Linked DNA regions of Homo sapiens. The protein of the gene in region 2 interacts with the protein of the main gene of each other region in a biochemical or structural test. Each region holds a gene or a part of one and is shown on either strand. Other genes may lie near its edges. The genes, in order: EIF2AK3 and DNAJC3.

Region 1 (7,000 bases), on a different chromosome or scaffold from region 2:
TATTTCTCCCACTTTTAGCACAGACTGGCCACTCAGCTCTCCTAGCCCAATGGATGCACCATCAGTTAAAATACGCAGAATGGATCCTTTCGCTACAAAAGAACATATTGAAATCATAGCTCCTTCACCACAAAGAAGCAGGTCTTTTTCAGTAGGGATTTCCTGTGACCAGACAAGTTCATCTGAGAGCCAGTTCTCACCACTGGAATTCTCAGGAATGGACCATGAGGACATCAGTGAGTCAGTGGATGCAGCATACAACCTCCAGGACAGTTGCCTTACAGACTGTGATGTGGAAGATGGGACTATGGATGGCAATGATGAGGGGCACTCCTTTGAACTTTGTCCTTCTGAAGCTTCTCCTTATGTAAGGTCAAGGGAGAGAACCTCCTCTTCAATAGTATTTGAAGATTCTGGCTGTGATAATGCTTCCAGTAAAGAAGAGCCGAAAACTAATCGATTGCATATTGGCAACCATTGTGCTAATAAACTAACTGCTTTCAAGCCCACCAGTAGCAAATCTTCTTCTGAAGCTACATTGTCTATTTCTCCTCCAAGACCAACCACTTTAAGTTTAGATCTCACTAAAAACACCACAGAAAAACTCCAGCCCAGTTCACCAAAGGTGTATCTTTACATTCAAATGCAGCTGTGCAGAAAAGAAAACCTCAAAGACTGGATGAATGGACGATGTACCATAGAGGAGAGAGAGAGGAGCGTGTGTCTGCACATCTTCCTGCAGATCGCAGAGGCAGTGGAGTTTCTTCACAGTAAAGGACTGATGCACAGGGACCTCAAGGTCTGTATTTGTGGAGCATCACCCTTGGGGTTTCAATCTGACGTTTTGTGATTCAGAGCAGTACTTGCAGTACTCTGAAGGATCCTTAAGAGTTGGGGAGAGTAAAAGCATCTGAGAGCAGAGGTCTGAGAAAGTAGCCTCGAAGGGGCCTGCTGCAAGAATAAGAAGTCTTATGTCTGAAAACTTTAGGCAAACCATGCATTCATTGTCTTCAGTAATGTGTTTGTGTTCATTTTACTGTAAAAGGTATTCTCAGTAGTCCAGGTGAGGGAAAAAAAAGAAAAAAGAATCTTTAGGTAAAATCCACCATGAGCAGATATAGCCTGTTTTTTTGTTTGTTTGTTTGTTTTTGTTTTTCTATGGTTTTGAGTAACCCTGACACCAATACCTCCAGGGCTCTGAAGCAGCATGGTGAAAGGGATCCGAATGGAAGGAGAGACATGGGTTCCTTCATTAGCCAGCTTGAATTGGGGCAAATCTCCACACTTTTGCTTCTTTTTCTGAACTGTTTAGACTTTGGGGGAAGGGGTAAGAAGCCGAATGGGGAAAGGTAGCAAATAGTTAACAGATGACTGTTTACAGCTCTAAAACCTTGGATTCTATTTTCAATATATTCAGTAGTGAATTTTGCAGTAATATAATATGCAAAATTATTAAAGAGTCTTACTAAAACATGACATTTCCGTAGTAGTGTTTCTAAAAATAAGTACATGGAACTTTTATTTAACTAATTTCCCACATTCCATATACTCTTAGCCATCACCAGTAGATGTGGAGTGAATGTATAAATACTTTTCTGATGAAAGTAGCTTAAAGTCTTGATAGATGTGGATCCATTTTAAGTCTTTTCAGACTTAAAACAGACTTGTTTCAGGCACAAAAGTAGCTATTTGGACACAAGTTATTTTCTTCTAAAATCAGCAGTAGGTTTTCAAATTCTTGGGTATATTTTAAGAGTTTTAGGGTAACAAGAATAGGAATTAGAAATAATTCTTATTTTTTAATATAATTGTTATTTAGTCATATAAATCATTATGCTTCAGTGATTTTGACGTGGGCCCAAACTGATTGCCAAGAATTGTTCTGCACTGAATGAAAAGTTCAGAGATGAATTATTTGGTTGGATTGGAGAAGACAGTTTACAGGAGACCACACACCCCTAATTTGAGAGAATACTAGCAGTTAGGTTTGAATATAGTAAACGCTTATCACTAGGTGGGAAACAGCTAGCTGAAATACACATTCTTCTTGTACTTAACACTTGCTGTACACACAAATGCCAACTTGAAAGACAATGAATCATGTTTTCACTAATAATGAATATTCTTCTGCTAATTTTATAATGTAAATGAGATATTGGTAAATATCCATTTAATGCTACAATGTTGTCTAAAGATTTTTCTGTAATTGTCTATGCACCAGAAAAATTGCAAGAAGAAAGTTAATATTCCTGTTAGTTTTTCTAGAAATCAGAAAGTTTTATTCCTTTCTAAATAGAAGACAATTCCTTTTAAAGATTTCTAGTGCGCCACCCCCAACCAAAAAAAAAAAAAAAGCCAAGATTTTTGTTCCTGGGTGAAAAAGCTGTACATTTTGCTACGTTCTGACCTAAATCTTTGAGCTCAATGTTAAACCTTCTAGGCCCTCTCCCCCTGTTATATTTTGGTCACATTTTTGTCTTCAGGACTTTGGCTCCTGCCTCTTCAGACTAACTTCTAGTCTTCTATTTTCTCCACTCTGAACTTTTCTCAGTTCCTCTTGATATACACTGTTCTGACAGAAACCTGGTCCTTCTTCATTATTCTCATCACACCTGGATTATTTATTCTGTGGTTTCTATGGGGTATGAACCATATCTGTTTCTTTTACCTGTTATAGTCTCAGTACAATGCCTGAATGTTCTAGATGGTCATACCATTTATTTTGAATTTTATTTTCTTTGCACTCAAAAGTGTTTATACTGACTTAACCAGAAAAGGAAATCTGTTGGCCCACATGGCTAAACTGTTGAGAATTCAGGTAAAGCTTTAGCTGAGATCAAGTGATTTAGCCAGAACCTGGTTTCTGTCCTCCCCATTTCTTGTTTCTATTTAAGTCTTTTGGAGTTGGTGGGGTAGAGGGTGGAGAGAAAAGTATTGCTTTTTCCCACTATCAGAAATTTTATTCTACTTAAACCAAGGACACCTACCCATCCCTCAACAATCCCTAGCCAGGCAATGGGATTCCATGGATTGGCGTAAGCAACTTTTAGAGCATGGATGCCTTCCACACTAACCGTGGGGTTTTGCTGCACAGTCAGCAAGAAGGAAGTTCCCAAAGTAAAGTCAAGATACTTCTGCTGGAAGCACAGGGAGATAGATACTGGAGAGCCAAAAAGCTTGTCTATTATAGGGTTCAGTAAATAACAACTGCCATCAGATGTTGGGAGTTGGGAAGAAAGATGACATTTAATGCAGGATAGTCTATTATTGCCTCTGGTACAAAGTTATTTATTGGAGAGCTGCAGATTATTACCATAGATCTTATACACAATAACTTCATGCTTCCAAGTCAAAATCGTTTAATGGTATTTTAGAGTTTGGGAATGCAATGTTATTTTCTGGCAGTATTTGAAACATGATGAAATTCAATTTCATGAGCTAAATGGCTTCCTTTTTCCTCATTTCAAGGGCTATGAATGGTGGTCATATTACCCGCAGAGTAGAGTAGACTCTGAGGGAGAGGTGATGTATTTCATGTAGGGCACCTTGGGTTTGAGAAGCCCATGAGACCTCTGGTTAGATGTATTCAATAAACAGTGTAATATGAGTTTAGAACTCAGGGCAGAGATCTGGGAGTAGATATAGTCTTGAGAACATAGAGGTTTTACGAGAGGCAGCATAGAGTAGTAGTGAAGAGCTCTTATCCCTTCTGATAATCTATATCCCCCTCAGACGCAAACCAAAAGATCAGTCTGTTTCATTCATTCACCAAATAGTAATTAGCTACCATAGAGCAAGAACTGGACTGAAATCTGGGCACGTGGCAGTGGATCACAAGGTCCTTTCCTCATAGAGCCAGACTGCTCAGGTCTGAATCCCTGCTTCACCACTTGCTAGTTGGGTAACCTTGGGCAATTTGTTTAACTTCTGGGCCTCACTTTCTATGTCTGTAAAATGGGGTTAGTACTCATCTAATGGGGTTGTAGTACATGAGTTAGTAGTAGTAAACTGCTTTGAACAGTGCCTAGCACATTGCAAGTTCTATTTATGAACTAGTTATTATTAGTTATAATTATTAAGGCTTTAAGTCATAAGTGTAGAGATGCTTGCCTGGGAAGAATATATAGAATAATAAGATTGAGGATTAAGTACCATGATCCCTAGGGAATGTGCACCTCAAAGGGTTTAAGTAGATGTTCAATAAATACTAGCACTCTTTGCTACCCTTCCCTTTTCTTTACTAGCAGTACTTGTCTGGCACAGAAAAATTGTCACTATTTTCCTGTTAGCCCATTTTAAAAAGAAATATGCTTGAAAATATCTAGTTTGTTGTATTTTTTCTTTGTAGTCTTTTAAATAATTCTCTTTACTTTTTCGCCTCCATGCACACCCACTGTACTTTTGTCTGTTGTATTCTTTCCAGCCATCCAACATATTCTTTACAATGGATGATGTGGTCAAGGTTGGAGACTTTGGGTTAGTGACTGCAATGGACCAGGATGAGGAAGAGCAGACGGTTCTGACCCCAATGCCAGCTTATGCCAGACACACAGGACAAGTAGGGACCAAACTGTATATGAGCCCAGAGCAGGTGAGTTTTTCAGACCTTTACTTACTAGCACAGCAGCAGATGTACCTGATGAATCTCTTCTCATGTTTTCATTAAAATACCCAGTAATCTAAAACCCAGTAAGTCTGAAAATTATGAAAACTGGCAGTAGTGTTCCAGTAGTGGAATAGTGACACAGCTAAGATGTAGTTTCTACAACCTGAATTGGGGCTGGATTAAGAAAAATACAACACATAAAATGCACTCACCCCCTGAACAAGCACCTGACAGCAACCAGGAATTTGGAAAGAGACTTTGAATGCCACCCTCCCAAACTTAACTCGTTTGCCTTGTGTAGACTGTGTTGGAACTGTTTTCAGAGCCAGCTAGACCCAGAGGTACTATACTGAGCTGCCCTTTGTGGTCACTCATAGGCAACTTCCAGCATGTACCACAGTAGGAAATAGAGGCACACAGGCCGGCAGGTGTTGCCTTGTGGGCTGCTTGGCCTTCACAGGAAAAGCACTGTAATCAGGGCAGGGACTGGAAGAGCTGGGGGAGCAGGGCATCCTGGAAGCATCAGGCGAGCATGCTCAGCCACCACCAGGCAAATGATCTTCACAAGCTTCTCTATGCTTAGAGCAGCGGGTCTCGGACGTTTTGGGCTCAGTACATACTTACACTTGTAGAAATAACTGAGAACCCAAAAGGTTTTCTTAACAAAATTTTATCTATCGATATTTGTTATATTAGAAGTTAAAAGAGAAATTTATAAAACTTTATTAAATCAACTAAATAACAATGAAACCTATCACATCTTAAGATATTTTTATGAAAAATAAGTATTTTCTAAAACAAAAAAAAATTACAGGCACCAATTCCCCTGCAAAAAAAAAAAATTAGAGTGACATTTGTTTACATTTTTGCCAGTCTCTTTAAAGCTAACTTATAAAAGTGCTACATTCTTCTATCTGCTTTTGTGTTCAATCTGTTGCAGTATGTTATTTTGGCTGAAGTACATGAGGAAATCTGGCCTCGCACAGATATGTAGTTGGAAAAAAGAGCAATATTTCATTTCAAGTAATTGTAGATATTTTGTCTTTGATAGTATATCAAAACTTAGTAAATGATAGTTTCTTAGAAGTCATTTACACTGTGGAATCTAAAACCATTCATGAATATTTTGTACTCTGGTACTTTTAACATCCCTTGGTCCATTTTGTACTTTGAATGGATCTTTTTACCCATGCTTGACTTTACATTGTGCATTAGTCATTTGGAAACTATTGGTTCCCTAAGTTTGGCAACTATTCCAAAAGTCATCACAGTTCATTATGTAATATAAAAAGTCACTTTGGTTAATACAACCACCAATCTCACCAGAAAAGGCTTTATGTACATATTAGGAGGCTATCAAATTCCCACTGGTAGACTGAAATCTTCCAAAATTTTAATTTTCACTTAAAAGCTCAACTTTTAACATTGGCAACAAATACTGTTAGTTTTCCTTGAAATGCCATTCTCACATTGTTCATCTTTTTTTCTCTTTAAAAAAAAAATGTTGTTTGTTTTTTTTTTTGAGATGGGGTCTTGCTGTGTTACCCAGACTAGTTTTGAACTTCTGGCCGCAAGCCATCCTTGAACCTCAGCCTCCCAAAGTGCTGGGATCACAGGCGTGAGCTACCATGCCCGGTCTCATTGTTCATCTTTAAGAAAGTGTCCCTCGGCCAGTCGCAGTGGCTCACACCTATAATCCCAGCACTTTGGGAGGCCGAGGCAGGCAGATTACCTGAGGCCAGGAGTTCGAGACCAGCATGGCCAACATGGTGAAACCCCGTCTCTTGTAAAAACACAAAAATTAGCTGGGCATAGTAACGCATGCCTGTAGTCCCAGCTACCCAGGAGGCTGAGGCACAAGAATTGCTTGAACTTAGGAGGCAGAGGTTGCAGTGAGCCGAGATTGCACCACTGCACTTCAGCCTGGGTGACAGAGCAAGACTCCATCTCGAAAAAAAAACTCTCTGTCAAGTATCCAAGTCTCAATAACTGTAGTTTGTCTACCAATTATTCTTTCAAGTCAAAATGGTGTTCTATGAAAAGAGCAGCTAGAGCATATTGTAACTCAAATAATTGCACAAATGCTAATGATACTCACAAGCTAATCTATGCTTACATCAGCAGGTCTCAACTTCTTAAAATTAGTTTGTTTTTTAAATTGACTCATAATTGTACATATTTATGGGGTACATACTGTCGTTTTAATACATACACTATTTAGTGATTGGATCAGGGTTATTAGCATATCCAAGGTATCAAACTTGGAGACAACTATTGTACTTTGGTATGGAGCATAAATGTTTTTCTGAATATTTTCCATTTTGTCAGATTATTAAAAAGGTGTATATTTAAAGGTTGAGATTTAATAAATTAATAATTTCTACTGCTAAGGAC
Region 2 (3,884 bases):
CACTTTGGGAGGTCAAGGCAGGTGGATCACGAGGTCAGGAATTCAAGACCAGCCTGGCCAAGATGGTGAAACCCCATCTCTACTAAAAATACAAAAAAATTAGCCAGGTGTGGTGGTGGGCACCTATAATCCCAGCTACTCGGGAGGCTGTGGCAGTTAATTGTTTGAACCAGGGAGGCAGAGGTTGCAGTGAGCCGAGATCATGCCACTGCACTCCAGCCTGGGCAACAGAGCAAGACTCCGTCTCAAAAAAAAAAAAAAAAAAAGGAAGGTTTGAGCTTTCTGGAAAAGTTCTGTATACATTTACATATCGTAGCTCTCCTTGGATCTTTCTTAAGATATGCAGAATACATTAACTGAGAAGGCAGTTCCTTCTGTTTGTAGCTGGAAATTTGAGATAGATAGGCTATAGTGTCCTTCCTTCCTCCCAACTTAGGACCTTAACAGAAATGTACAAATGGGGTATAAAAGAGAAGAGAAAATCTTCAGACAAAGCCAATTTAAGTGTTACATTTTAATAGCACTGAAATGGAAGACTTGTCCACTTTTTAAGTCCTTAGTTGTCCTAGGACTTTTGAGGGTTAAGAGATTTTATTTTAGCCCTTTCTGCTTTGTGTGTTCTGACCTTCCCTGTCAACTTGTGTAAAGGAAGAGCCCTTTTGTCACCTCAGTCACTGGTTTTGCGTGAAGCAAAGCTGGAAATAATAGACTTTTCCTAAGACGGACTTTCTTAGAATTTTATACTCAAGGACAAAAATGAATCAAAAGCAAGGAAATACTGATATGACCATAAATATTTTTATTAAATGTGAAAATACACGGGCATAAAAATAGTACCCATATTTGTAGACATGTCTGAGACCCATTTCAAATATTAGGTTCCTTTTTTATTAAAACACTACATTGAGATGGATTAAGTTACTTAGTCTTTTCTCATTCAAAACAAACTAAAACCTCACAGCAAGAGTAATATTTTCACAAACATCTCCAATGTTTACCTCCTCCTTGCTCGGCTTTCCACTGCAGGTAAGTGTTTCAGCCACAGACAAGTGCAACAAAACCGGTTACTATACACAAAGCCACGCAGTGGCTAATTTTACTCTTAAATCAATCATTCAGCAAATGAGATCATCTGTAAACAAACAAAAAAAACCCCCAAATAATCCCACCTCTTAACGTCATTTGAAATTACAGGATAAACTGCCACTAACAAAAAAGGAATGATCTGATTTAGAAAAAGGATATTCGTTGTTGGCAAATTAACATTTGCCTTCTTCCTTCCTTTATAAATTTGGAAAAGTCAACTACATTCAACAAAGTTGCGTGAACTTCTCTAGGTGATACCATTGCTGTGTGCTCAGTGAAAACTTTGCAACGCCCATCACCAGGGCCGTGTCTGTAACCTCACCAGGGAGCCATTTTATGTAGTTTTTTCATGGTAAATGTCAAAGACAACTTCTGACCCATTTAAAGGTGAAATTTTTCATCATCCATTGTGAGTAGAAAATGGTATCAATTTCAAATTGTGGTTTTATTGGCTACCTTTTTTACCAAGTTATGTTTTCTCTTAAACTGTGGGTAGTTTTAAAATTCCATTATCAGGGCAACAAAAATTTGTTTTCATACCAATACTTTAAAAAAGATTTTTAATACTGACTAAAGAGAAAGGCATTGTAGAATTAGTAGTACGTTACATCTGATTCACATTAGTAAACTGTCAAGATTTTTTTCAAGTTTTCATCTATTCATGGTAAGAAAGCACAAACTTTCAGAACTGAGGAATGAATTAAATTTTGTCTCCCGTTTTGGAACCTTTTCACAATGCTTCTAGACTGATGTGTCTAATACTTCCTGCTGGGCAAAATATCCACAAAGTACAGACCACTGATAACTCCACCCATGAAGCTCACCAAAAAGGAAAGAAGAGCAGAATACAACAGCTGTGGCTAGGGTACGCCTCTCTGATTTCACTTTTCCTGAAAGAGCCATAAAGGTTACCTGATGGCCAGGCGCAGTGGCTCACGCCTGTAATCCCAACACTTTGGAAGGCCAAGGCGGGCAGATCACAAGGTCAGGAGATCAAGACCATCCTGGCTAACACAGTGAAACCCCATTTCTACTAAAAATACAAAAATTAGCCAGGCATGGTGGTGCGTGCCTATAGTCCCAGCTACTTGGAGGCTGAGGCAGGAGAACTGCTTGAACCCGGGAGGTGTCCCTGCACTCCAGCCTGGGCAACAGAGCAAGATTCTGTCTCAAAAAAAAAAAAAAAAAAAAAAAAAGGTTACCTGGCACCTGTAGTCCCCAAGGGAAAATGAAAGTAGTATGGTTTTACAGTGGATAATGCTACCCTACAGTGAGACAGGCAGGGGGAATGACTATCTCTTTACACACCCAGGCTGCTTCTCAGTCACACATTAGGGTAAGCAGGAGTGACTGTCTCTCCGTTTGGGTGGACACCAGAAAACTGCCGACAGCCATCAAGGCTGAAACTCAACAGTTGTTACTTTCTTCATGAATCAGCGAAACAACAGATTGCAGAGAATTCATTTCCCTCCATGGCACTGGCATGTGGCACCAGAGCTGCTTCTCTCTCTTCACTGAAAACAGGCAAGTAACTGCAGGTCAGTTAAGATGACTAAGTAAATCCATGATAAGAATTTAGGAGCTGAAACTATGGTTGTTACAAGTGGAGAAAAAATGAAAATGCAAACAAGCCTCTGGGCAGCAGGTGGGAGGTGGCCAGGCCCCCACACATCTCCTGTGCGGCCCTTGACCCCTTGTTGTTGGCAACTGTCGTGCTCTCCAAGTGGAAAGGCAAGTGATTTGATATTTCCTTTTTTTTCTGACTCTATGTGAAAATTCTTTTCAAAGTAGGTAAAAGCCATCACTATATTTCAAAGAGGTCACAGTGACATCATATACAAAAGGAACCAGATTGAAAAAGATATTGCTGACATAGCCAGTAGTGAGATTACTAAAGAATAAACAGAAATGCCTTGGAAATTATTTTTACACCGGCTTGAATTGAAACATTAAAGCAAAATGAAAGCTGTAAGGTGTTCACTAGTTTTCCAAATGCGTTGTCAAGTTTATTGGTAAGAAATAGACTCCTAAATAGATGCAGAAAGCACTTAAGTGTTCTGCTCAATTCAACTATGTGATTTTTGTCTCTCAGTTAAAAATTTGTCCACCTATGTTTCAGGATATGACTACAGACGAAAACGATTTGTGCTTTGCTGTTATGGATGTCCGTGGTCAGGATGCCTCCCACAGTGAATTAAAATGCTTGATTTCATTAAGAAAAAAAAATTAGACCCTTTAATGGTTAAAACACTTCAAAATGCTTTGAGGCAGAAACAAAACCTTTCCAGAATAAAGGTAGCAATTCCTATCTATCTAAAGTAATTCCTTCAGCTTTCAAATGCAGCATCAAGAGTGCCATAAATATTCAATATTCTTGATTAACATTTTTTAGGGAAAAAGCATTCAGTATACAAAGACTGAATAGTTCACTTCTTAAATAGTATCTTCTTAAAAGGTAAGAAGAACATATCTCAAGAGGAGATGCCATCTTATTAAATGAAACAACAGTGGAAATATAGCCAGACCTGACTAACCTTGCCTGTATTTTCTTGTAGGCAGGAGAAAATCAGAGGCATCAAGATCTGGTAGAAGGGCCGGTCTGCTGTTTAACACATACCAGCAGACAGGTCCCACGTGGGAGGCACCACAGACCTTTAAGATAGGGTGAAGCCTTGATAGAAGGAGAAACAGAAGCTGCCCACTGTCTTTACTTAGAAGTGGAGAACATGGCATTCTGTATTTATTTATGTTGACTGCGCAACTTTACGTTTCTAAACCAGTCTTGTTACATGAAATTC

Evidence for each region.
Region 1: the proteins of DNAJC3 (region 2) and EIF2AK3 form a complex in vitro, tested with the Homo sapiens proteins (one study listed by BioGRID).

The regions. Positions count from the first base shown.
Region 1 is NC_000002.12:88,568,465-88,575,464, reverse strand, and holds part of EIF2AK3 (eukaryotic translation initiation factor 2-alpha kinase 3 isoform 1 precursor), read left to right. Parts: exon of another isoform or gene 1-18; coding exon 19-799; exon of another isoform or gene 800-951; intron 952-4,423; coding exon 4,424-4,591; intron 4,592-7,000. UniProt on the Homo sapiens protein: Metabolic-stress sensing protein kinase that phosphorylates the alpha subunit of eukaryotic translation initiation factor 2 (EIF2S1/eIF-2-alpha) in response to various stress, such as unfolded protein response (UPR).
Region 2 is NC_000013.11:95,791,881-95,795,764, reverse strand, and holds the end of DNAJC3 (dnaJ homolog subfamily C member 3 precursor), read right to left. Parts: 3' UTR 777-3,884; downstream 1-776. UniProt on the Homo sapiens protein: Involved in the unfolded protein response (UPR) during endoplasmic reticulum (ER) stress.